Homo sapiens: one gene and its partners. The protein of the gene in region 3 purifies or fractionates together with the protein of the main gene of each other region. This does not show direct contact. Each region holds a gene or a part of one and is shown on either strand. Other genes may lie near its edges. The genes, in order: CIAO2A, SNX16, NFS1, SUCLA2, SUGCT, CHD1L and PPM1K.

What was found.
Region 1: the proteins of NFS1 (region 3) and CIAO2A purify together in Homo sapiens (co-immunoprecipitation; one large-scale study listed by IntAct). This does not show direct contact.
Region 2: the proteins of NFS1 (region 3) and SNX16 fractionate together in Homo sapiens (co-fractionation; one large-scale study listed by BioGRID). This does not show direct contact.
Region 4: the proteins of NFS1 (region 3) and SUCLA2 fractionate together in Homo sapiens (co-fractionation; one large-scale study listed by BioGRID). This does not show direct contact.
Region 5: the proteins of NFS1 (region 3) and SUGCT purify together in Homo sapiens (co-immunoprecipitation; one large-scale study listed by IntAct). This does not show direct contact.
Region 6: the proteins of NFS1 (region 3) and CHD1L purify together in Homo sapiens (co-immunoprecipitation; one large-scale study listed by IntAct). This does not show direct contact.
Region 7: the proteins of NFS1 (region 3) and PPM1K purify together in Homo sapiens (co-immunoprecipitation; one large-scale study listed by IntAct). This does not show direct contact.

What each region holds. Positions count from the first base shown.
Region 1 is NC_000015.10:64,083,839-64,087,338, forward strand, and holds part of CIAO2A (cytosolic iron-sulfur assembly component 2A), read right to left. Parts: intron 1-3,500. UniProt on the Homo sapiens protein: Component of the cytosolic iron-sulfur protein assembly (CIA) complex, a multiprotein complex that mediates the incorporation of iron-sulfur cluster into extramitochondrial Fe/S proteins.
Region 2 is NC_000008.11:81,821,686-81,825,185, reverse strand, and holds part of SNX16 (sorting nexin-16), read left to right. Parts: intron 1-1,245; coding exon 1,246-1,394; intron 1,395-3,500. UniProt on the Homo sapiens protein: May be involved in several stages of intracellular trafficking. Plays a role in protein transport from early to late endosomes. Plays a role in protein transport to the lysosome. Promotes degradation of EGFR after EGF signaling.
Region 3 is NC_000020.11:35,689,353-35,692,852, forward strand, and holds part of NFS1 (cysteine desulfurase isoform a precursor), read right to left. Parts: intron 3,019-3,500; exon of another isoform or gene 2,897-3,018; intron 1,214-2,896; coding exon 1,061-1,213; intron 1-1,060.
Region 4 is NC_000013.11:47,987,774-47,991,273, forward strand, and holds part of SUCLA2 (succinate--CoA ligase [ADP-forming] subunit beta, mitochondrial precursor), read right to left. Parts: intron 1,209-3,500; coding exon 1,109-1,208; intron 931-1,108; coding exon 768-930; intron 1-767. UniProt on the Homo sapiens protein: ATP-specific succinyl-CoA synthetase functions in the citric acid cycle (TCA), coupling the hydrolysis of succinyl-CoA to the synthesis of ATP and thus represents the only step of substrate-level phosphorylation in the TCA.
Region 5 is NC_000007.14:40,271,005-40,274,504, reverse strand, and holds part of SUGCT (succinyl-CoA:glutarate CoA-transferase), read right to left. Parts: intron 1-3,500. UniProt on the Homo sapiens protein: Coenzyme A (CoA) transferase that reversibly catalyzes the transfer of a CoA moiety from a dicarboxyl-CoA to a dicarboxylate in a metabolite recycling process.
Region 6 is NC_000001.11:147,284,184-147,287,683, reverse strand, and holds part of CHD1L (chromodomain-helicase-DNA-binding protein 1-like), read right to left. Parts: intron 3,334-3,500; coding exon 3,185-3,333; intron 2,361-3,184; coding exon 2,197-2,360; intron 1,387-2,196; coding exon 1,184-1,386; intron 50-1,183; coding exon 1-49. UniProt on the Homo sapiens protein: ATP-dependent chromatin remodeler that mediates chromatin-remodeling following DNA damage.
Region 7 is NC_000004.12:88,274,562-88,278,061, reverse strand, and holds part of PPM1K (protein phosphatase Mn(2+)-dependent 1K), read left to right. Parts: intron 1-818; coding exon 819-919; intron 920-1,284; coding exon of another isoform or gene 1,285-1,325; exon of another isoform or gene 1,326-3,135; intron 3,136-3,500. UniProt on the Homo sapiens protein: Serine/threonine-protein phosphatase component of macronutrients metabolism.

The DNA of each region.
Region 1 (3,500 bases), on a different chromosome or scaffold from region 3:
AGGCCGAGGCACGAGAATCGCTTGAACCCAGGAGGCAGAGGTTGCAGTAAGCCAAGACAGCACCACTGCTTTCCAACCTGGGCAACAGAGCAAGACTCTGTCTCAAAAAAAAATAAAATAAAATAAAATAAAAATAAAAAATAAAAAGCCAATGGTCTTAGCTGAAATGCATAACGAAAGGGCTAAGACAAAACTTTCTACAGGAAGTGTACAGATCTGAAATATCAACTATAATCTAATGTTAGCACCCTTACAGAACAGTTTTTATTTCATGCACTCTCCTGATATTTGTCCACGTACACATTTTTCTATAACTGCAATCATGATGCAATTTGAACTTATTCAAGCTTTTTCATGTTTTTTTTCTTTTTTAAGAGATTGCTGGTTTCAAACTCCTAGGCTCCAGTGATCCTCTCGCCTCGGCCTCCCAAAGTGTTACAATTACAGGTGTGGGCCACCACGTCTGGCGAATATTTTCTTCTATAAAATTAGTTCCTTAACTCCTGCGTCAAACAGTATAAACTTCCAGATAGGGATTTACCAATATATACCATGAGGCTTCAAAATACTTACATAATCTAACCCAATTATTCCACGTATAGGAATTTATCCTGATGCAATAATGAGATATATAAAAATATTTATATAAGGCCAGGCACGGAGGCTCACCCCTCTAATTCCAGCACTTTGGGAGGCCAAGGCAGGCGGATCACCTGAGGTTGGGAGTTAGAGACCAGCCTGACCAACATAGAGAAACCACATCTCTATTAAAAATACAAAATTAGCCAGGTGTGGTGGTGCATGTCTGTAATCCCAGCTGCTTGGGAGGCTGAGGCAGGAGAATCGCTTGAACCTGGGAGGTGGAGGTTGTGGTGAACCAAGATCATGCCATTGCACTCCAGCCTGGGCAACAAGAGTGAAACTCCGTCTCAAAAAATAAATAAATAAAAATATTTATATATAAAGTTGTTCGGTCAGGCGCGGTGGCTCACACCTGTAATCCCAGCACTTTGGTAGGCCAAAGAGGGCAGATCACTTGAGGTCACAAGTTCGAGACCAGCCTGGCCAACATGGTGAAACCCCGTCTCTACTAAAAATACAAAAATTAGCTGGGCTTGGTGGAGGATGCCTGTAATCCTAGCTACTCGGGAGGCTGAAGCGGAGAATCACTTGAACCTGGGAGGTGGAAGCTCCAGTGGCCACTACACTCCAGCCTGGCCAATAAAGTGAGACTCTGTCTCAAAAAATAAAATAAAATAAAATAAAATAAAATAAAATAAAATAAAGTTGCTCATCACAGTATTATTTATAATTGCAAAAGGCTAGAAGTAGTCCAAATGGTTACAAAACTTCTGATGTACCAATATGATTAGCATGTAACCTATAACTATATAATTAAAGAATATTTAATGATGGCCAGGTATGGTGGCTCATGCCTGTAATCCCAGCACTTGGGGAGGCTGAGGCATGAGCCCAGGAATTTGAGACCAGCCTGGGCAACATGGCAAAACTAGCCAGGCATAGTGGCACCTGCCTGAAGTTCTAACTTTTCAGGAGACTGAGGTGGGAGGATCACTTGAGCCCGGGAGGTGGAGGCTGCCTGCAGTGAGCCGAGATCGTGTCATTGCATTCCAGCCTGGGTGACAGAGTGAGACCCTGTCTCAACAACAAAAAAAATTTAAAAAAAGAAATATTTAATGAGAAAAATAATTCATGTATTTCATGCTATTACTTAACTCTTACGACTCTATAGATATCCTTATTATTCCTGTTTTACAGATAAGGAAACTGGGTCTTGGAAAGGTTAAGTAACTTGCCGAAGCCCACAATACGGTACAGCCAATAGACCTGGAATTTTAGCCCAGAGCATATATTCTTTTTTTTTTTTGAGACGGAGTCTCGCACTGTAGCCTGGGCTGGAGTGCAGTGGCGTGACCTTCGCTCACTGCAACCTCCGCCTCCCGGGTTCAAGCGATTCTCCTGCCTCAGCCTCCCACGTAGCTGGGATTACAGGCGCCCGCCACCACGCCCAGCTAATTTTTTGCATTTTTGGTAGAGACAGGGTTTCACTACGTTGGCCAGGCTGGTCTCAAACTCCTGACCTCATGATCTGCCCGCCTCGGCCTCCCAAAGTGCTGGGATTACAAGAGTGAGCCACTGCACCCAGTGACATTCTTTCATAATAGCTGGTTTTTTTCTTTATGTTTTTGTGGGGTATCAAAATTACTGCCAATAAACATGTTACTCATATAATTTAAATAAATGTTAATTTTAAAAATGAATTTGCTGGCTGGGAGTGGTGGCTCACACCTGTAATCCCAGCACTTTGGGAGGCCGAGGTGGGCAGATCACCTGATATTGGAAGTTCGAGACCAGCCTGGCCAACATAGTGAAACCCCATCTCTACTAAAAATACAAAAAAAATTAGCCAGGCATGGTGGCGGGCGCCTGTAATTGCAGCTACTTGGGAGGCTGAGGCAAGAGAATCGCTTGAACCTGGCAGGCGGAGGTTGCAGTAAGCCAAGATTGCACCATTGCGCTCCAGCCTGGGTGACAAGAGTTAAACTCCAGCTCAAAAAATAAATAAATAAATAAATTTGCTATAGGTTCTTGAACTCTCCATTTAAGAACTCTTTCTTATATGTCAAAATATTTTAAGACACCCCCTCCACAACACCCACAGCAGTACTTTCAGTATCTGTTCGTTCACAAATTGTCCAATGACCAAAAATAACCATGCATTCAGCATTCAGTAATGCTTTTTCTAGCAATGGGATTTTTTTTTTTTTTTTTGAGACAGAGTCTTACTCTGTTGCTTAGGCTGGAGTGCAGTGGCGCAATCTCAGCTCACTGCAACCTCCACCTCCCATGTTCAAGCGATTCTCCTGCCTCAGCCTCCCGAGTAGCCGGGATTACAGGTGCGTGCCACCATGCCCAGCTAATTTTTGTATTTTTAGTAGAGATGGGGTTTCACCATGTTGGCCAGGCTGGTCTTGAACTTCTGACCTCAAGTGATCCACTGCCTTGGCCTCCCAAAGTGCTGGGATTACAGGTGTGAGCCGCCATGCCAATGGGAATTTTTTTTTTTTGAGATGAAGTTTTTGCTCTTGTTGCCCAGGTTGGTGTGCAATGGCATGATCTCAGCTCACTGCAACCTCTGCCTCCCAGGTTCAAGTAATTCTCCTGCCTCAGCCTCTCAAGTAGCTGGGATTACAGGTGTGTGCCACCATGCCTTGCTAATTTTGCTTTTTTTTTTTTTTTTTTTTTTGGGAGATAAGAGTCTCGCTCTGATGCCCAGGCTGGAGTGCAGTGGTGCAATCTCGGCTCACTGCAAACTCCGCTTCCCGGGTTCACGCCATTCTCCTGCCTCAGCCTCCTGAGTAGCTGGGACTACAGGCACCCGTCACCATGCCTGGCTAATTTTTTATAGTTTTAGTAGAGACAGGGTTTCACCATGTTACCCAGGATGGTCTCCATCTCCTGACCTCGTGATCTGCCCG
Region 2 (3,500 bases), on a different chromosome or scaffold from region 3:
TCCCCTCCCCTTGAACCTGGATGGTCTTGCGACTACTCAACCCAATAGAGGTCAGTGGAAATAATGCTGTGTGAGTTTTAAGCCTAGATTACAAGAAGTGCACAGTTTCATTCTGGCTTGCTTTCTTGGAATGCTCCCTTTTGAAGCCAGCCTCCATGCTGCAAGAAAAGTCCAAGACACCTGGAGAGGCCAGTATTAGGCTTATGGCTGACAACCTTGGCAAAGTTCTCAGCCAGCAGCCAGCATCATCCACTATAGATGTAAGTGAGTGAACTTCAGACAGTTCCAGCACCCAGCCTTCAAGTCTTTCAGCTGAGGCCTGAATTCATTGCATAATAGAGATATATCATCCTTACTGTACCTCATATGAATTATTGACCTAAAAAATCTGTGAGCTTAATATTAAGAAATGGTTATCTTGTATCACTGAGATTTTAGGTAATTTGTTACACAGTTGTGGTAACTTGAACAGAATGTAAAAGGGAAGACTTCACTTAGTTTACAGGGTTGGGAAAGTCTTCCCTAAGAAAGTAAAATTTAAGCCAAATGTATAAAATAGGTCATAACCAGAATATAAAAGTTAAAACTAAACTTTTAGGAAAGACACATAGAAGAAAATCTTTACAGCCTTGGAGTAAGCAGACTTTTTTTATGATCTAAAAAAAAGCATAAACCATAAAAGAAACAATGGATGAATTAAATAACATTAAAATTAAAAAAAATCTGCTCTGTTAAGACAAATTGAAAAGTCAGGCCAAGTTGGGAGAAAATATTTGTAATGCATGTATCTGACAAAGGACTTGTATCTGAAATATATAAAGAACTCTTATAACTTAGGCAACCTAATTTTTTTAAAGGGAAGGTGCTAAAAAATTTAATACATAATTCACCATTGAAGATACTCAAATGCAAATAAGCAGATGAGAAGATATTCAACTTCATTTGTCAGCAAAGAAATGCAAATTATAGCCAGAATGAAATGGTTCTACACCCCCACTAAAATGGTTAACATTCAAAAGATGGACAATGCCAAGTTCTGGCAAGGATGTGGAAAGACTGGAACTCTTCTGTATACACAGCTGGTAGAAAACAAGAAATAAAACAAGGCATAAAAAGCTTAACTGAATTTAATTCTTTTATTTTAAACTTATTTCATGAATAATTTCATGTAGTCAACAGGATAGATTTTGTAGAATTGATAGTGCTTGAGTTAAACATTGTATTTGCTCTTTTCTTCTTTTTCAGTTAAAAGAGATGTTTCCAGGTTTTCGACTAGCACTTCCTCCAAAACGCTGGTTTAAAGATAATTACAATGCTGACTTTTTAGAAGACAGACAATTAGGATTACAAGCGTTTCTTCAAAATTTAGTAGCTCACAAGGACATTGCTAACTGGTATGTAACGAATTGAAATAAGAGATTATAAAAGCATTCCAATAACTGGCGTAAATTAAAGAATAAATCTATGATCATAGTTATTTAAGCACAAAAATACAGGGTTGGAGTATAATTACTTGTCTTCTTTAACAAAGTACTACAAGAGATTTTCTTGCTTTCTTTCAATAAGGACTTTATTTGACATTTCATTTTTATCAAAGCTTATTTTAAATAGTCAGTAAAGTGAAAAATCCAGTGTACCATGTACTAAACCACCCAAAGGTAAACTTTTAGTATTTTGTATTTTAGCAATGACTTAAACAAAACCACTTACATATTAGTAAAATTTTGGTTAATATGATACTATGTAATTGTAAGGGTAATATTCTTTATATTTCTCCAAAGTAATGCAAAAATATTAAAATTGTGAAATTGGCTTAATTTACATAGAAGGTAGAGTGAAAATACCAAACAGCATTAAAAAAGGAAAAGAACAGATCTATGTGGGTTTTTTGCTTCAGAATATATTTACAAGAAAATTGCTTAGTGGTTCAATATCAGCTGAGTATCTAATTTTGGAACTTATGTTATCAGATAAATTAAAACTACTTTGAAAAAAAAAGTAGAAAGCATTTACAGTGTAGCAATAGCTTATAGATAACTTGGGCCTGTAACTGTCTTGGGCAGTTTTTCACATGAGGATGGAAAACAAATTAAGAAAACCATTCTATCTAATTTTTTCTACCTCTTTTTCTCAACCTTTGCATGTATCAATTTTTTTCCTGCATGACACACGTGCGATATATATATATAGATATACACACACATATGTGTATATATATATATATATATATATATATATGTATATGTATATATATATATACACATCTTGCTTTTCAGTGTGTGCCACATAAGCCTGATGGCTTCTCAAGGTCTCTGCCCATCCTCCCTTATTTTTCTCTTAATGAAGGAACTACAAGCCAAACCCATTCTTTCTACTCCAGATTGATATATGCAGTTGTCTCCTCGACATCTTCAGATATCTCAAAATTACGTCAAACCTAAAACATATTTGAAAGTTTAGTATGCAGACTTTTTTCCTCCAATTTGTAGCAGCATCATCTACCCAGAACCTGTGAGTCATCTTTAACACATCCTTCACTACCCTTAACATTTCCCTTGCAAGTACCACTCAAGTCTGTCTACTTCTCTCCATCCCTGCCATCACTACCCTAGTCCAAGCACGTATCTCTCACCTTAATTACTGTAGATGCTTTCTCACTGGTCTTCCTCCTCCCCTCTTACTACTATAGCCCAGTAGAGCCACAGTGATCTTTGTGATGCAGTTTGACTTATTCTTTCTGGTCCCTGCCTGCCTGCCTTCTTTTCAATCTTAGGTTTTGTTATTCCTGCCCACCTCCCCTTCTCTGTACATTTGCCATATTGGTCTTCTTTTAATTCTCCAAAATCAGCTTGCTCCTTGTTTCTCAGAGCCTTCAAATATGCTATTTCCTGAAAAGGCAGCCTTTCACACTACTACCCCATCCAACCCTGACCTCGTACCTTACCCATCCTTCAGTTTTCAACACAAACTGCACTTCGTTAGGTAACTGGCCTCCTGACTGACCACTCACCACCACTACCACCACCACCAAACACTAGGTCAGTTCTCTATCACAGAGTCTGTACCATCCCTTCTCAACTGGCTCTGATGCTTTAAGACACCGTTCATCACCCACAGGTAATGAATTAACTTATTTCCTATATTCTAAGATGATACTAGCTATGTGCCAGTCTCAATAGAATTGAGACAATCACTTAAATCATTATCAGTAGGGGTCAGTTCTCTCTTGGAATCTCAGTTGAGAAAGGCTAATTGGTACTTCACTTTCATAGCATTTCAGCTTATAATTATTTCTGTCAATATTTGTCTTTCTCCCACCAGATTGATTGTAAGATGTTTAACAACAGGTCATGTGGCTATTTTATTCACCATCCAATCTAATGTTTAGCACAGCACTAACATAGTTGGTTCTCAATAAGTACTTCTTGAGTGAATGATATAACTATTGATATTCACTGATATACTGTGTATTAGAAAAAAAAAATTGAAGCCAATGTGAC
Region 3 (3,500 bases):
GGCGGCTCATGCCTGTAATCCCAGCACTTTGGGAGGCCGAGGCAGGTGGATCACGAGGTCAGGAGTTCGAGACCAGCCTGGCCAATATGGTGAAACCCCATCTCTACTAAAAATATAAAAAATTAGCCAAGTGTGGCCGGGCACGGTGGCTCACGCCTGTAATCCCAGCACTTTGGGAGGCCGAAGTGGGTGGATCACGAGGTCAGGAGATAGAGACCATCCTGGCTAACATGGTGAAACCCCGTCTCTACTAAAATACAAAAAAACACTAGCAAGGCGTGGTGGTGCATGCCTGTAATCCCAGCTACTTGGGAGGCCGAGGCAGGGGAGTCGCTTGAACCCGGGAGGCAGAGGTTGCAGTGAGCCAAGATCGCGCCACTGCACTCCAGCCTGGCAATACAGCGAGACTCTGTTTTAAAAAAAAAAAAAAAAAAAATTAGCCAGGTGTGGTGGCACGTGCCTGTAGTCCCAGCTACTCAGGAGGCTGAGGCAGGAGAATCACTTGAACCCGGGAGGTGGAGGTTGCAGTGGAGTGCCACTGCACTCCTGCCTAGGTGACAGAATGAGACTCTGCCTCAAAAAAAAAAAAAAAAAAAATTAACTGGGCCTGGTGGCATGCGTCTGTAATCCCAGCTACTCGGGAGGGTGAGGCAGGAGAATCATTAGAACCCAGGAGGCGGAGGTTGCAGTGAGCCGAGATCGCGCCACTGCATTCCAGCCTGAGTTATAAGAGCCAAACTCTGTCTCAAAATAAAAAAAAGAAGTAACAAGTCCTCCAGAGGTTGCAGAGAGCTGAGATCAAGCCACTGCACTCTAGCCTGGGCAAAAGAGTGAGACTCCATCTCAAAAAAAAGAAAAAGAAACAAGTCCTCCAGAGAAAAGGAGGACAGTACACACTCAAGGGGAACATGATCTCGTTCTCTGCCAGGCTTATTTCTCTAAACTTCATCCTAACTGTTAGATCTATTCCTTCAAGCTCCAGCTAGGGCCCAAGAGAGAAATTTACAAGCTGAAGCCAGGCTCCTCCATTTTTGCTCCTCCTGCCAATAGCCACTCCTACCTTTAGGTCAATGATCCCACTCTTCTGCACTGGGAGGTAGGTGACCTGAAAGCCCTCAGCTTCCAGTGAACGGCAGGAGTCCAAGACACATTTGTGTTCTGTCTGGGTGGTGATCAAGTGCTTTTTCCGTGACCTGTAGAATCGGGCCACCCCCTAGAAATTGGTGGTGACAGATGGAAGGAGAACATACTCAGAGAGACAGCAATGACTTCAATCTCATTTGTAAAGGAAAAGTGGGCAAGAACAGTATGCTCCAACACCAGTTCTCTCATACCAACTGAGTATCCTATAATTCAATTCTGAGGCTAACTCTCCAGACTTAGTGAAAACCCCATGGGTTAAGGGCTCAATCGTACAAGACTGCCCCTAGTTCAGATACCAGACATAAGTCCCAGGGGTCTCAAGCTACCCATACTTCTGCCCAGTCAAATACAAATTCAGGGCTTCCCGAAGCCCGGTCAAGTTCAATAATTCACTAGAATAAATCACATTTGTCCAAACCCATAGAATGTACAACACCAGTGAATCCTAATATAAGCTATGGACTTTGGGTGATAATGATGTATCAATATCAGGTCATCAATTGCAACAAATGTACCACTTGATGGAGGATGCTAATAATGGCAGAAGGCTGTGCATACCTGGGGGCAGGGCATATATAGGAAATTTCTATACCTTCCTTTCAATTTTGCTGTGAACCTAAAACTGCTATAAAAAATAAAATCTATTAAAATAATAATAGTATACAGATTAATGTAGGTATTTAAAAATCTGGAGAAATATACAGCAAATTAGCAGTGAAAATGTGTTTAGAGTTCTACTCTATATTATTGGAATTTATGATTCATTCATTTAACCAATATTTAGCACCTCCAGTATCCCAAGTAATTTTCTAGGTGCCAGTGATATAACAGTAAACAAGTCATGAGTAGGTATTACTGTTAATATCACAAGAAACAATAAAGGTACATTTAAAAATTCCTGGAATTTCAACTATTACAAGAAACTAAAAAAAACATTTATCTCATTGAAGAAAAAAAAAAAGCGGCCAGGTGCAGTGCCTCACGACTGTAATCCGAGCACTTTGGGAGGCCGAGGCAGGTGGATCATCTAAGGTCAGGAGTTTGAGACCAGCCTGGCCAACATGGGGAAACCCCATCTCTACTAAAAATTAAAAAATAAGCCAGGCCCGGTGGCACGCACCTGTAATCCCAACTACTCAGGAGGCTGAGGGAGGGGAATCACTTGAAATCAGGAGGCAGAGGTTGCAGTGAGCCAAGAGTGCTATTGCACTCCAGCCTGGGCAACAGAGCGAGACTGCATCTCAAAAAAAAAAAAAAAAAAAAAAAAAAAGAACGCCAGGTGCAGTGGCTCATGCCTGTAATCCCTCCACTTTGGGAGGCTCAGGCAGGTGGATCACGAGGTCAGGAGTTTGAGACCAGCCTGACGAACATGGTGGAACCCCATCTCTACTAAAAATACAAAAATGGCCAGGCGCGGTGGCTCACACCTGTAATTCCAACACTTTGGGAGGCCGAGAAGGGAGGGTCACCTAAGGTCGGGAGTTCAAGACCAGCCTGACCAACATGGAAAAACTCCGTCTCTACTAAAAAAAATACAAAAATTAGCCAGGCGTGGTAGTACATGCCTGTAATCCCAGATACTCTGGAGGCTGAGGCAGGAGAATCGCTTGAACCCAGGAGTTGGAGGCTGCAGTGAGCCGAGGTCACGCCATTGCACTTCAGCCTGGGCAACAAGAGCAAAACTCTGTCTCAAAAAATAAATAAATAAATAAAAATAAAAATACAAAAATTAGCGAGGTGTGGTGGCACGCACCTGTAATCCCGGCTACTCAGGAGGATGAGGCAGGAGAATCGCTTGAACCTGGGAGGCAGAGGTTGCAGTGAGCCGAGATCATGCCCCTACACTCTAGCCTGGGCGACAGGGTGAGACTCCATCTCAAAATAAATAAATAAATTAATTAATTAAAAAAAAAAAAGGGGGCTGGATGTGGTGGTGGCTAATGCCTATAATCCCACCACTTTGGGAGACTAAGGCAGGAGGATCGCTTGAGCTCAGGAGTTCAAGACCAGCCTGAGCAACATCATCTATACTAAAAAAAAAAAAAAAAAAAAAAAAAAAAAAATTAGCCTGGCGTGGTGGTACACATCTGTAGTCCCAGCTACTCAGGAGGATCACCTGAGCCAAGGAGGTCAAGGCTGCAGTGAGCTGAGATCTGGCTACTGCACTCCAGCCTAGGTGAGATCAAGACTCTGTCTCAAAAAACAGAAAAAAGAAAAAAAAATGGGCCAGGAGCAGTGGTTCACACCTGTAATCCCAGCACTTTGGGAGACTGAGGCAGGTGGATCACCTGAGGTCAGAAGTTTGAGACCAGCCTAGTCAACATGGCGAAACCCCGTCTCTACTAAAAATACAAAAA
Region 4 (3,500 bases), on a different chromosome or scaffold from region 3:
TTAATGTTCTACATGAAATCCGTACTGGGGCTTTCAAATATATACCCAGTTGCTTCAAAAAACAAGCTAGTTAACACACAGATTCAGCTTGTAAAACCTAATACCCTCGAAAAACAGATAATTCTAGTATAAAATGATTATCAATGCTCTCTTCCAAACACCAGGTCTATAAAGGGATTTTCTCTTCACCAGAAGCTTTATGTTCAACATTTTAGGTTCCATAAAGAGAGGAGAGCTGTGCTAATGTAATACTCCTTAAAACCATATTGTTTGCTACTTAATGTCATCCCTCAATTTACCAAATATTGAATCATATAGTGAAACAAACCCGAAACTATTAAAAAAAAAAAAACAAACCCAAGAAGTTGAGAAAACAGAAGATGAGGCAATGGATACACATTCTTCTAGTGGGTTCAGCAACTTTCTCTTTCATTAGAATATTTTACTATGCTAGATATAATTTTCTCAATCTGGAGATGATCCAGAGATGATTTAAGCTGCTTTTAGTGAATTAACAATTTGAGAATCCCATGAAATTTATTACAGCAGAATTTTTCCTATAATTTTAAGATCATGATATTATATATCAAATTTTACGGCATTAAAGAAGCTGTTTTTTAAATGACATAAATATCATGCTCATGACATACAAACAGATTATAATTTGTACTTTTAAAATCTTTCCCACATAAATAGAAACAATAATGGACTTTTGAAATTGAATGTCATAAATTTATCCCGTATGTATCATGTCTACAATTACTCACTTGAAATGACCTTTCCATTGTTATTGCAAAGTAGTATTCTCTCCTGGGATATTTTCGCTCACAGACCAATACTTGATTGCATATTCTGCCCTTTTCTCCCGTTTGCTTGGTAAACAATTTTTTCCCAATCATTTGTGAAGAAACAGCTTTTGCTTCTTCTGGACTAAAATAAGAAAAAGAACTCAAATTTTTCTTTCCTCCAGTTGAGAAAAAGCAAATCCACATAATAGCCAAAATTTTATCTCATCTAATATTTAAATTTCAGTATTTTCATCAATTCAATAAGTAATCTTTAATCAGTCTTTAACAAGGATGATTTTTCCTTAAAAAATGTGACTTACGAGAAAACTATCTTCACTCCTCCTTTGAGGCCACTTTCAAATGTTCCTTTTCCTCTACCACCAGCTAAAACCTGTGCCTTTATCACGACATCTTTTGAACCTAGAAGAAAAACACTTCTATTAAATATGAAGCATGGAGCAGCATGCCAGACATAGTATTTTGTTATTTAACATACATATTGACAGGTGTTATTAAATCAAGTCTAATTTATTCACAATGTCCAAAAATAAGGCATTCTCTTTATGTAGATTTTCTAGATTAGAACACTAAAATAATCACTGTCTAAAAGGCCCACAATTTTCAAAATTCGTCACTTACATTAAACCATTTCTTTTTTTTTTTTTTTGAAACAGAGTCTCGCTCTGTCGCCCAGGCTGGAGTGCAGTGGCGCGATCTCGGCTCACTGTAAGCTCCGCCTCCCAGGTTCACGCCATTCTCCTGCCTCAGCCTCCCGAGTAGCTGGGACTACAGGCGCCCGCCACCATGCCTGGCTAATTTTTTTGTATTTTTAGTAGAGACAGGGTTTCACCATGTTAGCCAGGATGGTCTCGATCTCCTGACCTCATGATCTGCCCACCTCGGCCTCCCAAAGTGCTGGGATTACAGGCGTGAGCCAGTGCTGGGATTACAGGCATGAGCCACCGCACCTGGCCACATTAAACCATTTCTTAAAAGTAAACTGAAAATAATTTAACCATTTCTTGACACTTTGGAAAGTGTCATCTAGAACTCTGGAAAGTATCAAAAGTACAAAATTGAATTTCATGTCTTCCTAACACGTCCCTCCCTCTCTATTCACATGTAAACTTGCTGTCCTGAGAACATCTGAGTTATATCGCTATAGCAGGAATATGTCATGATTTGGGGGATATTACCATTACCAGTATTGATACTGATTTATACTGTCCCACTAAGAGAAAGTTCTATTAAAATACATTATTGAGCAGTACTGCATGAGTAGTACTATCAGGAGTTATTAAGGTATCTGTATCAAAAGATTTCAGAATTCTATGCTTGCAAAGCTTATGCATATTTTTAAATAAATGGACTGAATTTTTCTTCTTTAACAGGTAGACTGATTACTATTTATCCCTTTTCCTCTCCTTTCTAATTTGCTGTGGAAAACCAGCAAACTGGCTGTTTAGCCTAGATAGTACTCATCATTCATGATCAAGAGTAAATGGGCCCGGTGCGGTGGCTCACTCCTGTAATCCCAGCCCTTTGAGAGGCTGAAGCAGGCGGGTCACATGAGGCCAGGAGTTCGAGACCAGACTAGCCAATATGGTGAAATCTCATCTCTATTAAAAATACAAAAATTAGCCAGGCATGGTGGTACATGTCTGTAATCCCAGCTACTTGGGAGGTTGAGGCACAAGAATCACTTGAATCCGGGAGGCGGAGGTTGCAATGGGCCAAGATTGTGCCATTGCACTCCAGCCTGGAGGACAGAGCAAGGCTGTCTCAAAAGAGTAAATGCTCTGGGTGATGGGTATCCTAAATGCCCTGAATTGATCATTACACACTCTATGCATGTAACAAAATATAACATGTACCACAAAAATATTATGTATCAGTTAAAAAAAAAGAGTAATACCTCTTAGAAAGGCATTCTCTGTGTACCAGACAGGCAGAATTCAGAGCCTCCTCATTTTGCCTCTCATAGCATTTTGCCCACACTGGCAGGGTGGCACCAACTATACATTATGGCAAAATAACCTTTGAGATCAGGGCTAAAGGTCTCACTGTATTCATTATATCCCAAGCACAAGGAAGTCTCTGGGATATAACAACTACTCCATAAACATGGATTTGAACAGACTGAAGTAGAGTCCTCTACAACTAGGATGTCACTCCACGATGCATTTATCAAGCAGAATGAGAGGAAGCTCCCACCTAATCAGATGAACCAACCAAATCAATGAGGTAGGAAATGGAGTTTGAAACCAAACAAAAACAACCTAAAGTTTACACATTAACAATTATTTTAAAAGAACATTTAGAAAATTACTGATGTAAGCCTTCACCAGAAATACATGCTATTTAAACCAGATGATGACCCTATGCGTAGTCAGCCAAGAGAGTGTTTAAAAAACTTGTCTTTCTCAAACCCCACTTCCATTCAGCCAGGAAATCATACTGGTTCTATCTTCAAATTTATCCAGAATCTTCACCATTCCTCATCACCTGCAGTTTAGACTCTGATCCCAACCACCACTATCTCTTAACTATATGACCTTTGTCCCCCACAGAATATTCTCAAGGCAGCAGCCAAAGCAGGCACACCATTCCTCTACTTAAAACCTTGCACTGAATGCCAGTCTCACTCAGTTAAATGCCAAAGTGCTTACAATGGCCTAGAAGACCTTATAATACCCTCTACACTTTTTATCT
Region 5 (3,500 bases), on a different chromosome or scaffold from region 3:
AAGGTTGGGTTGAGAAAGAAGAAATAATTAAACATTAAAAGAATCATATGATTTCTCAAATCTTCTAATGTGAAATAGAAAAAAGAATTGTCTATTAACTGTGCAGACACATACACACAAGAAAGTTAATAAAATAAATTGCTATTGTGAATATCTGTTGGTAATAGGAAAATATTTATATTTACTATATACTTCTCAGTGCATTTCTCTCCCCAATGCCTACTAACCAAACTAAAAATAAAAGATTTTTTAGAAACCGATCTGATGTTTCAATGTTTTAAATTCCTTCTTGATATATTTTATCTTGTTTATGCTAAAAAAATTAATTGAATTTAAATGAGTTAATTTGTTGGGGAGAAAGAGTTAAAGCAGTGTTTTTCTCCTATTGGGTGAGAGGCTCTCTCACAAAAAAAAAAAAAAAAAAAAAAAAAGAAGGTAAAAAATCTGGTCAAACCTCCTTGTAAGCACACCAATAGCTGGCAAAAATACTAACAGTGTTTGCTTAATAATTTAAAAAAAGACTATTTACCCATAAAAAGCTGTTAGCAGACTGCCCCTGAATTAGGATTACTATGATAAACAAACTGAGAATCTCAAGATTTATGGGACATGGAGCACTGGGCACAGGGCATGAGCTTTGCAACTATCTGGGTATAAAACGGAGATGTTTCACAGCCTGTAACACTCCCTGCTAATAACTCATATATTTCATTAAGGACCTCATCTACTGCTTTGGGCCACAGAGTTTTGTCTATTGCAGTAAGAAAGGATCCGGGGGCCTCTCTCAATGTCCCAGACATGTCTCTGCTTTTTCTGAGCCTTTTGATTGCTTGTATTCTTGAAATTATAAGGAAAGCTTAATATTGATTAACATCTCCACTTCATGTCAGTCTGATTTGACAATCCAATCCTTGGCCCATATGTAAAGATGTTAGAACAGTACTTGACACAAAATAAAAATCACCTATCAAAATTATCAACATTGTTATTAGTCATTGATATATCAGATAGTTTCTACTTGTCACTACCTTTAATTCTGCTAAGCCTTAAATCGCACAGAATACCTAAAAAAACTCACATTTCATACTTCATCTGGCTGATGCAGTGATTCAATTACCTCCTTATTAAGTCTAGCTTCTGTTGAATCATTTTCAGAAGTTAATTTGTCCTTTTTTTGTAGCCCATCATAAACCATGTTAATTGTTTTGCAAAAGTACTGTTTTGCAAAATAATGTTTAAAGCAAGTAACTGAGACGGTATAGTAGCTAAACTTATTTTTCCCTGCTTTTCAATACAATTTCAAGGACGATATTGCCATGAAACTTGGAAATGTCTGGCAGTTTACTATTATTATTGTCAAAAGTTGTAATGTAATGCCTTAAATCAATACACTTAAAATTAAATTTGTCATTAGAATTTAAAATTATTTAATGTCTTAAAAGTGAGAGACAAGTTCAAAGTTACATTGACCCTTGAACAACAAAGTTCTGAACTGCATGGATCCACTTATACGTGGAATTTTTTTTCAATAAAAGTTACACTAAAGGCTGGGCACGGTGGCTCACACCTGTAATCTCAGCACTTTGGGAGGTCAAGGCGAGTAGATCACCTGAAGTCAGGAGTTCAAGACCAGCCTGGCCAACATGGTGAAACCCCGTCTCTACTGAAAATACAAAAATTAGCCAGGTGTGGTGGCACATATATGTAATCCCGGCTACTCAGGAGACTGAGGCAGGAGAACTGCTTGAACCCGGGAGGCGGAGGCTGCAGTGAGCTGAGATCGTGCCACTGCACTCCAGCATGGGTAACAGAGCAAGACTCCATCTCAAAAAAAAAAAAATAATAATAATAATAATAATAATACCATATGATCCAGCAATTCCACAGCTGGGTAGATATCCAAGAAAGAAGAAAATCAATCACGAAGAGATATGTGCACTCCCATGGTTACTGCAGCACTATTGACAACAGCGGAAATATGGAATAAACCCAAGTGTCCATCAAAGGATGAATGGATAAAGAAAATGTGTTCACGCACAGTGGCTCATGCCTATAAATCCCAACACTTTGGAGGCCAAGCAGGAGGATCACTTGAGGCCACGAGTTCAAGAACAGCCTGGGTGACAGAGTAAGACCCTGTCTCTACCAAAAAATACAAAAATTAGCCGGGCATGGTGGCACACACCCCTAGTACCAGCTACTTGGGAGTCTGAGGTGCAAAGATCACTTGAGTGCAGGAGTTCCATCCAGGCTGGAATGAGCTATGATCATGCCACTGCACTCCAATCTAGGCAAAAGACTGAGACCCTGTATATATATATATATATATATATATATATATATATATATATATATATATATATGTCACATTGCAGTTGTTTTTGAAACATCCATATATATATATATATAGAGAGAGAGAGAGAGAGAGAGAGAGAGCGAGACAGAGAGAGAGGAATATTATTCAGCCATAAAAAATTAGCTGGGCAAAGAATAAATTCCTGTCATTTGCAACAATATGGATGTCACTGGAGGACATTATGTTACATGAAAGAAGCCAAGCACAGAAAGACAAATATCACATATTCTGACTCAGATGTGGAAGCTAACAAAGTAGATCTCATGAAGATAGAGAGCAGACTGCTGGTTACCAGAGGCTGGGAAGGGTAGGGGGAGGAGAGATGAAGAGAGGTTGATTAGTGGGTACAAACATACGCTTAGATGGAAGAAATAAGAATTGTTGTTCAGTAGATCAGTACGGTGACTATAGCTAACATCAAAAGGCTGTACATTTCAAAATAGTTAGCAGGGAATAATTGGAATGTTCCTAGAACAGAGAAATGGTAAATATTTAAGGTGATGATGGGTATATCAACAGCCCTGATCTGATTATATTAATGTATGGAATGATCACATGAACCCTGAAAACATGTACACCTATTATGTATCGATTTTTAAAAAGCTAAAAAAAAATGAAACTTCTCAACCTAATAAAGGGCATCTATTAAAAATCATAACCCAGATCACACTTAAAAGTAAAGAACTGAATGTTTTCCCCTAAAATGAAGAACAAGACAAGAGGCCAGGCACGAAGGCTCATTCCTATAATCCCACACTTTGGGAGACTGAAGGGAGGGCCACTTAAGCTCAGGAGTTGGAGCCCAGACTGCACAACATAGTGAGACCCCCGCCTATATATTTTACAAAAGAAAAAAAATTTAACTAATTATTTTTTAAAAGAATGAGACAAGGATGTCCACTCTAACCACTTCAATTCAACATTACACTGGAGGTTTTAGCCAGTGCAGTTAGGGTACAAAAAGAAATAAAATGAATTTAGGTTGCAAAGAAAGAAGTAAAACTATCTCAATTTGCAGATGACCCAGTCTTATATATCAAAAGTCCTAAGGAATCCACTAAAAAACTCTTAGAACTAGTAATCGAGTTAAGCAAGATTGCAAGATAAAAGCCAATATACAAACATCAGTTGTATTCTACACACT
Region 6 (3,500 bases), on a different chromosome or scaffold from region 3:
TTTTCCAGAGCTGTAAATAAACCACCTCTGCCCCAGTGGCCAGAGTCATCTGTTTGAAGAAAGAGAAAATTTTCATCTATAGGAGGTGAAGTCCAGTGCACAATTTAGAAAAACAAAGGCACACAAAAGGGACTTGTGGAAGAATGATTTTTCAAAGGGAAGAAACAAAATATCTTATCTCCTAGGAATATCACAGGTTGGACTTCCCAAATATGTTTATGTTTTCTGGAAGATATAGCTGGGGCCATGATAACAGGAAAGCATCTCAAAAATTAGGGTTCTCAATGAGCAAAATCTCTGTGGTGCATCTGTGATTCCTGGCAAATGACTGCGGAAGGACGGAGAGTAGATGGAACATTACAGAGTGAGTAGAAGCAATAGGTTATGCAACAGCACATAGGCAAGGTTATGAAACAGTACACAGGAAAGGTTAAGTGACTTATTCAAGCTGGTACTAACAAAGCTGCTTAGTATCTTAGCATTTATAGTCATTCATTCACACTACAAACGTTTGGTAGCATGTATTACACGTAAGGCATCGTTCTAGGCACCACAGTCACAGCAGCGAACAAGAAAAAACCCCTGCTGCCATAAGTGTATTTTTTAATGCAAAGCAACAGTCAAATAAACAAATACATAGGTAATGTGTCAGGTGGGACAGGTGTGATAAAGGAAAATATGGGAGAAGGGACAGAGAATAACAGGGGGGATGGGGCCTGTTTTATATGAGGTAATCACAGAAGACCTCTCTGAGAAACAGACATTTGAACAACACTTGATGTGGTTATTTGGGAAGAAAGGGTTTTAGGCAGATGAAGTAAAAAGTACAAAGGTCAAGCAAGGGAACAAGCTTGAAGTTTTGCTTTTTCTCAAAGGATTTGTTTGTCTTATCAATGTTGCTTCATTTCACCCTCTTAAAAACCTTGTGCAGAGGATAAGACAGATATTGTCCCATCATATGGATAAGGAAGTTGAAGTTGAAAGGTTGGGTAACTAAACCAGGTAAATGAGAAAGCCAAGAGTGAAATGATTCTGGAATATCTCCTGACTCTAAAATTCACACTTTTTTGACTGTACAATACTACACTGGGACCACCACCCCAGTCCCAGTGCCCCATCCTCCCCAGTTCTTGGCACCATAAGGACTGAGGCCCCCATCCCCAGCCCATACCACTTCTCGTACCTACGCAGTGCACAATGAGAGCATCCTCGGCCCCAGCCTGAGGGTGGGTGACATCACCACTAACGTACTTGAGGGAAGTAGCATCTGGGTCTTGGTAATCCAGCTCAGCAGAGCTCTCTTCCCCATTCTCAAGGTCCTCTGGCTCGCTCTCCTCAGAGGGCAGGCAGAAGGACTGGTAATTGTTGGATTCCCACCAGGCCATCCTTTAGCAGGCCAGAGACAAAAGGAAATTAACCCAGACAATCACAATTTCCCTTGGAGCACATTTTATACTGCTGTTCACAAACAATATCTGCCAAGTAGAAATGCAATTAGAAACTCACCCTGATTGAAGTTTTCTACTTATTTGTAAACAAGTCTTACTGATTAGGCTAACTGCTTCCTGACTACAATTCAATAATGAGCACTCCCTGAATGTTCCTGTTTTTAAGACTAAAAGAGATTGTTGAAGTAAATTATTCTTTGTCAGATAGCTACAATAAAATCTTAAAATCTTCTGGTTTTGGCCGGGCATGGTAGCTCACGCCTGTAATCCCAGCACTTTGGAGGTCAAGGCAGAAAGACAGCTTGGGCCTAGGATCTTGAGACCAGCCTAGGCAACACCGTGAAACTCTGTCTCTACAAATAATAAAAAAAATTAGCCAGGCATGGTGGCACACACCTGTGTTCCCAGCTACTAGGGAGGTTATAGTGGGTAGATCACTGAGCATGGGAAGTTGAGGCTGAATGAGCTGTGCCCATACCACTGTACTCCAGCCTGGGTAACAGAGCAAGAACCCATCTCAAAAGAAAAAAGAAAACAATTCTGGTTTTAATGGAATGCATCTTCCCTGCCTTATACACTGAGACTTTTCACTTACCTAGAGGAAATGTTTTCAGAAAGTATTCTGTTACCAATAGGAACCAACTTAAAATGAATTTTCTGTATTTTTAAAGTGATATTCAACTGTGGTCTCACTATACAATAGTGACTCCTTCAACTGTGGCCGCCAGCTTGGTTAACGCAGACATACTTTTTCTTATGTTCAGCCTCTTCCTTTTGCCTCTTCTTCTCCTCTATGAGTCTCCTTCTCTTGGCAGCTGCTTCTTGTCTTTTCTTCTGTCTGTCCTCCAGCTCTTCTGGACTCAGAACCCGCTTCCTTTTGGTAGATCCCTCCACAAGGCCTGGGATGAGAACCTAGAGGAAGAACAAGATCCATCACCAGGGTCAAGAAGATTCCTCCCCGAATTTCATTATCCCTAACACACACTGTACGGAAGCAACATGCTTAATATTCCACAGAACACTGCATCTCCACACACCCTGCATGGTGGGAACTGGAGGCAAAGCACTTGGAGGCACTGTTCATACTACACACTTCACAGGCACAGTGACCAGGATACCATGCTGTAAACTCAGCCCTAGCATTGGCATGGTTGAAACAGTCATTTTGATTCATTTCATTAGGAATAAGTTACTTCAGAAAAGTAACTTTTTTCCTTGACTAAAAGCATACCCTGCAGGATGCCACTTCAGCCATTTTTAATGGAACTCTTTCTGCAATGTATTATGTAACTTTTTTAAGATTGTATTTCAACATCATGATTATCTTAGTGATAGCTAGCATTTAATGACCACGTTAACTGCCAAACACTGTGAACACTACATATATCATTTATGATTGCCATCCTCTCTTCTTGTCATAGGGTCATCATTACCAACAGCAGGATATGGTATTTTGGTATAATATAGGAATGCCTTTAGGGGTGACTTGGATGGACAAGGCTGCTTTCACCTACATGACATCGTACAATATATTCTCTCCTTTATGTTTTTCATGCTGACTTTTTTACATAGTTTTTATACTAGGGTATAGTTAATTATAATAACATTTCAGCAAACACATACTTATTTCTTGACAAATCATCCTAAGAGAACAAAACGATGCCAGCATCATTTTTTTGTTTGTTTTAGAATGAGAGTTTGGAAGAACAACTTTTAAATAAATTAACAGTTCTTACACTGCCTTTATTTCGGAGTGATCGGCCCTCTTGACTAGCTTTCTCCAAAAGGGTTTTCTGAAGGTTTACCAGTTGTTCAAATGATTTTCTGTCTTCCTTACTGGGCTCTTTAGAATAATCTTTACCTTCAAATAAGTACATATGATTTTCTAACAACATAAAACACAAAGAGAGAAATGTTAGATACCAAGGAAAAATAGATTAATGCTATTCAAATCAATAACAAAAGTGGACAGGAGAACAGCCTATATTCTAAATGGGCTAAGTCCATATGAAGGAAGGTATTTCATTTCCCATCCCACTGACACTGAAGAAT
Region 7 (3,500 bases), on a different chromosome or scaffold from region 3:
CGTAAACATAGTTACTTGAGTGGTTGCATGCTGCTGCTTCACGAATGAGCAGTAGTTTAAGTGTGCCATTTATTACTTATGGTTATCACAATTTCAGAAATGCATGTTTTAACAACTCCCCTGGGGAAAGCATTAACCAAAATCTATAGCACTTAATTTGTGATCATTTTAAGTGAAGTGGCATAATGTACATGAGATAACCTATGAGAAGCATTTACTCCCATCAGTGTAGGACAGATAAGTGCTTCAGTAAATGGTAATTACTCTTTCAAGTGGTGTGAATAGCTTTGAATACCTGACTTGTTGAAAATAGCTTTGGATGATTGGCATTAGTGTGGAAAAATGCATTTAATGCAGGCATTTTGGAGCTCTTCCGTTTATTTACTTCAACTAGTATTAATGCATTTTTGAGGATCACATTACTGCTAAAATTGAAAGAGGGAGAACATGTGATGGAGTTACGACCATGTGACTATTTTTGACTTCCCAGTGACCATTTCTTGACTTCCTGTGTATACCGCATTCCACGAAAGAACTCACAATGGGAAGGAACTCTCGACCTCTCAGGGTTGTGGTAGTGAGGATCAATTCTTCAAGGACAAGGACTTGGACTTTCATTGTTGTGCCCTTAAAAGCTTATCACAGTGCCTGATACTTTGTGGATTCTCAATAGGTATTCCTTAGCCAGTAGGTCTTCAGCATTTGACAGGAAAATCCTGAGGCCCGTTGTGTGGAATGACTGCTAGCTAGAGTAACAGTGAGGAGAAAAACCTATTGTAAAATGATTGTTTAAGGCTCTTTTTTTCCTCCCCACAAAGGGATTTGCTTCCTAAGGAGAAGAACTTGGAAACTCTGTTGACCTTGGCTTTTCTAGAAATAGATAAAGCCTTTTCGAGTCATGCCCGCCTGTCTGCTGATGGTATGTAAAACTATCACATTCCTTGGATCCTAGGGAGTACATGGGGTGGGGGAGGAGTAAAAAGGAAACACTTTAAGTCCTTTGGGGGAGGGGATTTTAATGGACAATTGTTTGTAAGGATTTATGTAGAAATGAGTTTATATGAAGAATCACATTAAATGCTGTTGGGAACTCCAATTAATGTTAATACCTCACTTTTAAATGAAATATATTGGAGAATTTTTCAGAAAGAGAAGCCCCGAAACAGTTCTGATGTTGTACTTTAGTTTTTAAAAGATTTTAAAAATGTTTAATCTGTTTGCTTATTTTATGGACAAAATGTCCATACTATGAGTTTTGTTTTGGGTTTTTGGTTTTTTTTTTAGATGGATCTGGTGACCAAGTGCTGAAATACACTACAGGGTAATCACATCTAGCGAGGACAGTCATTGTCCAACAAGAAAAAAATTGCAAATAGGTCCTAAATAGAAAAAGACAATGGTTAATATGCACTAATTTGTATAACTAGAAGGAAAATATTTTTCTGTCACTTCTTAAAAAGCTCAATCTTGCAGCTTTTCTCTGGTAACTAGTGATATTTTCAGCATAAGGTCATGCTAGCTGAATTTAAAATTTTGTGTACTGTATGTCCTTAAATTTTGAAAGTGAAATGTTTCTGGTTTTGACTAAATTTATCAAAACCATTTCACGAAAATTCAGCAAACGTTTTCTAGTTAGCTAGTCCCAAATCTTTTGCTGTTAAAGTTAACCCTGAAAATTTCTGTACCAGCCAAATGAATGTGTGCATGTAACCTTGTAAATGATTTGAAAATGAATCATGCAATAATCTTGATCTGTATTTGGTTCATCCTTTTCTTAAAAAAAAGAAAGAAACCAAGTGCACCACAGAAATGTCATTTGCACAGTCTTCAGTTGGAATACATAAGGATAGAGATTGTTTGCATTTCACAGCGAAGGAACTGAAGATTAGAGTGGTAAAGGTCAGTTCAGAGTTAGGGCTGGGATTTTCCTGACCACCAGCATTATCTCTCTTCTCTCATGAGGAGAGGAGAAGGTAACTCTGCGATGGCTCTATTTACCATCTTGAGATTTTTTCCTGAGCTTTTTTTGAGAACCTTACTATCACACTCCTCAGGAAAGCATTACAGTCCACTCTCTTCAGGGATATGTTTTCCAGTTTGTAGATCATTTAGGCCCATTTTCTTTTCTTTCATTCCTTTGGAATTTTTCTTTTTCCTTTCAACTGGACCCTTACCTTTAAGAAGACAGAAGCTGAAAGAGGTAAACTTTATGCATAAGACTTAGCTCTTGTTCCAAATAGTTAAAACACATGAAGGAAAAGAGGAAATGAAATATTTTCTTATGGTTTTATTTTTATTACTTCCTGAATTTTGGTATGCTCTTATTTCATAGTAACTGAGTTGGCTGTGCATCTGGCTATGTCTCACACCACAATGTTTGTTGACTGTAGTGTCGGTGGTGTGCCCCAGCTGTTCTGTAAATAGCTGCAGCTTACTGGGCAAGGTTTTTGGATGAGAATGTCCAAATTTATCCCAGGCATGTGACCACCAACCAAAAACATTGGCCTTCTCAATGCCATCAGCCTCTTTTAAAAGTATCTAGTCAATGTAGATGCTTAAACCAATCGGTGATTGACTTGATGTAAAATATGACAGGACTCCTTTTATTATTGAATGAAGTATAACTCAACAGAATTTTGAACTTAAAGAATTTAATTAACTTGCCTATCTTAAAAGAAACTTTCTAAAGATACCTTTGTCACAAAAACATTAAACAGTTGTATAAAGAAATTAATCACAAAAATGTAATTCATATGCTAACTTCAGCAGCACATACACTAAAATTGGAATGATACAGAGATCAGCATGGTCCTTGTGCAAGGATGGCACACAAATGCATGAAGAGTTCCATATTTTTTATTCTTACTAAAATCAATTCATTTGTAATAAAGAAATTAAAATGCATTATTTAATTTAATTCCTCTATCATATGCTTTGAAGTAATGATCCCAGAACATTCTTAAGATATTTTAAAATGTATTTTTCATATAATGGTAATTTGTTTGAAAGTATAATGGAGCAAGACAAGATGATGCTCTTAGTGTGTACTAAAAGAAAAGGTCTATTATAATATTGTTATTAAATCTTATTTTGTTATTAAATTTGTTATTTGTTATTAAAATCTTATTTTGTATATATTCTTATCGGTCTGTGTTTTTTAAAAATTAGTGTTTTGAGAACATTTAAAAATTTTATTCTTGATAAGTTGCCAGAGCCTTCAAAGATGGCAAAAATTGTCTTGATATTTAGGGCCTATTTTATCAAATACATTAAAGCCACTAAAGATAGAATGCCATATGTTGTGTAACTGTTCAGTTTATGGATTTTTTAAAATGTCATTTTAAATTTCAAAGTTATTATTTAAGTTTAAAACTTTAGTTTTTAGCAAGAACTGAAGCAGTATCAGTATTATAAGAGTGGATAATATTCTTTTCGGCCTATGTATATAGATAGGACCAGTGCCAGTGAAACAAAATTTTGTAGTAAGTGCAGTTTACCCT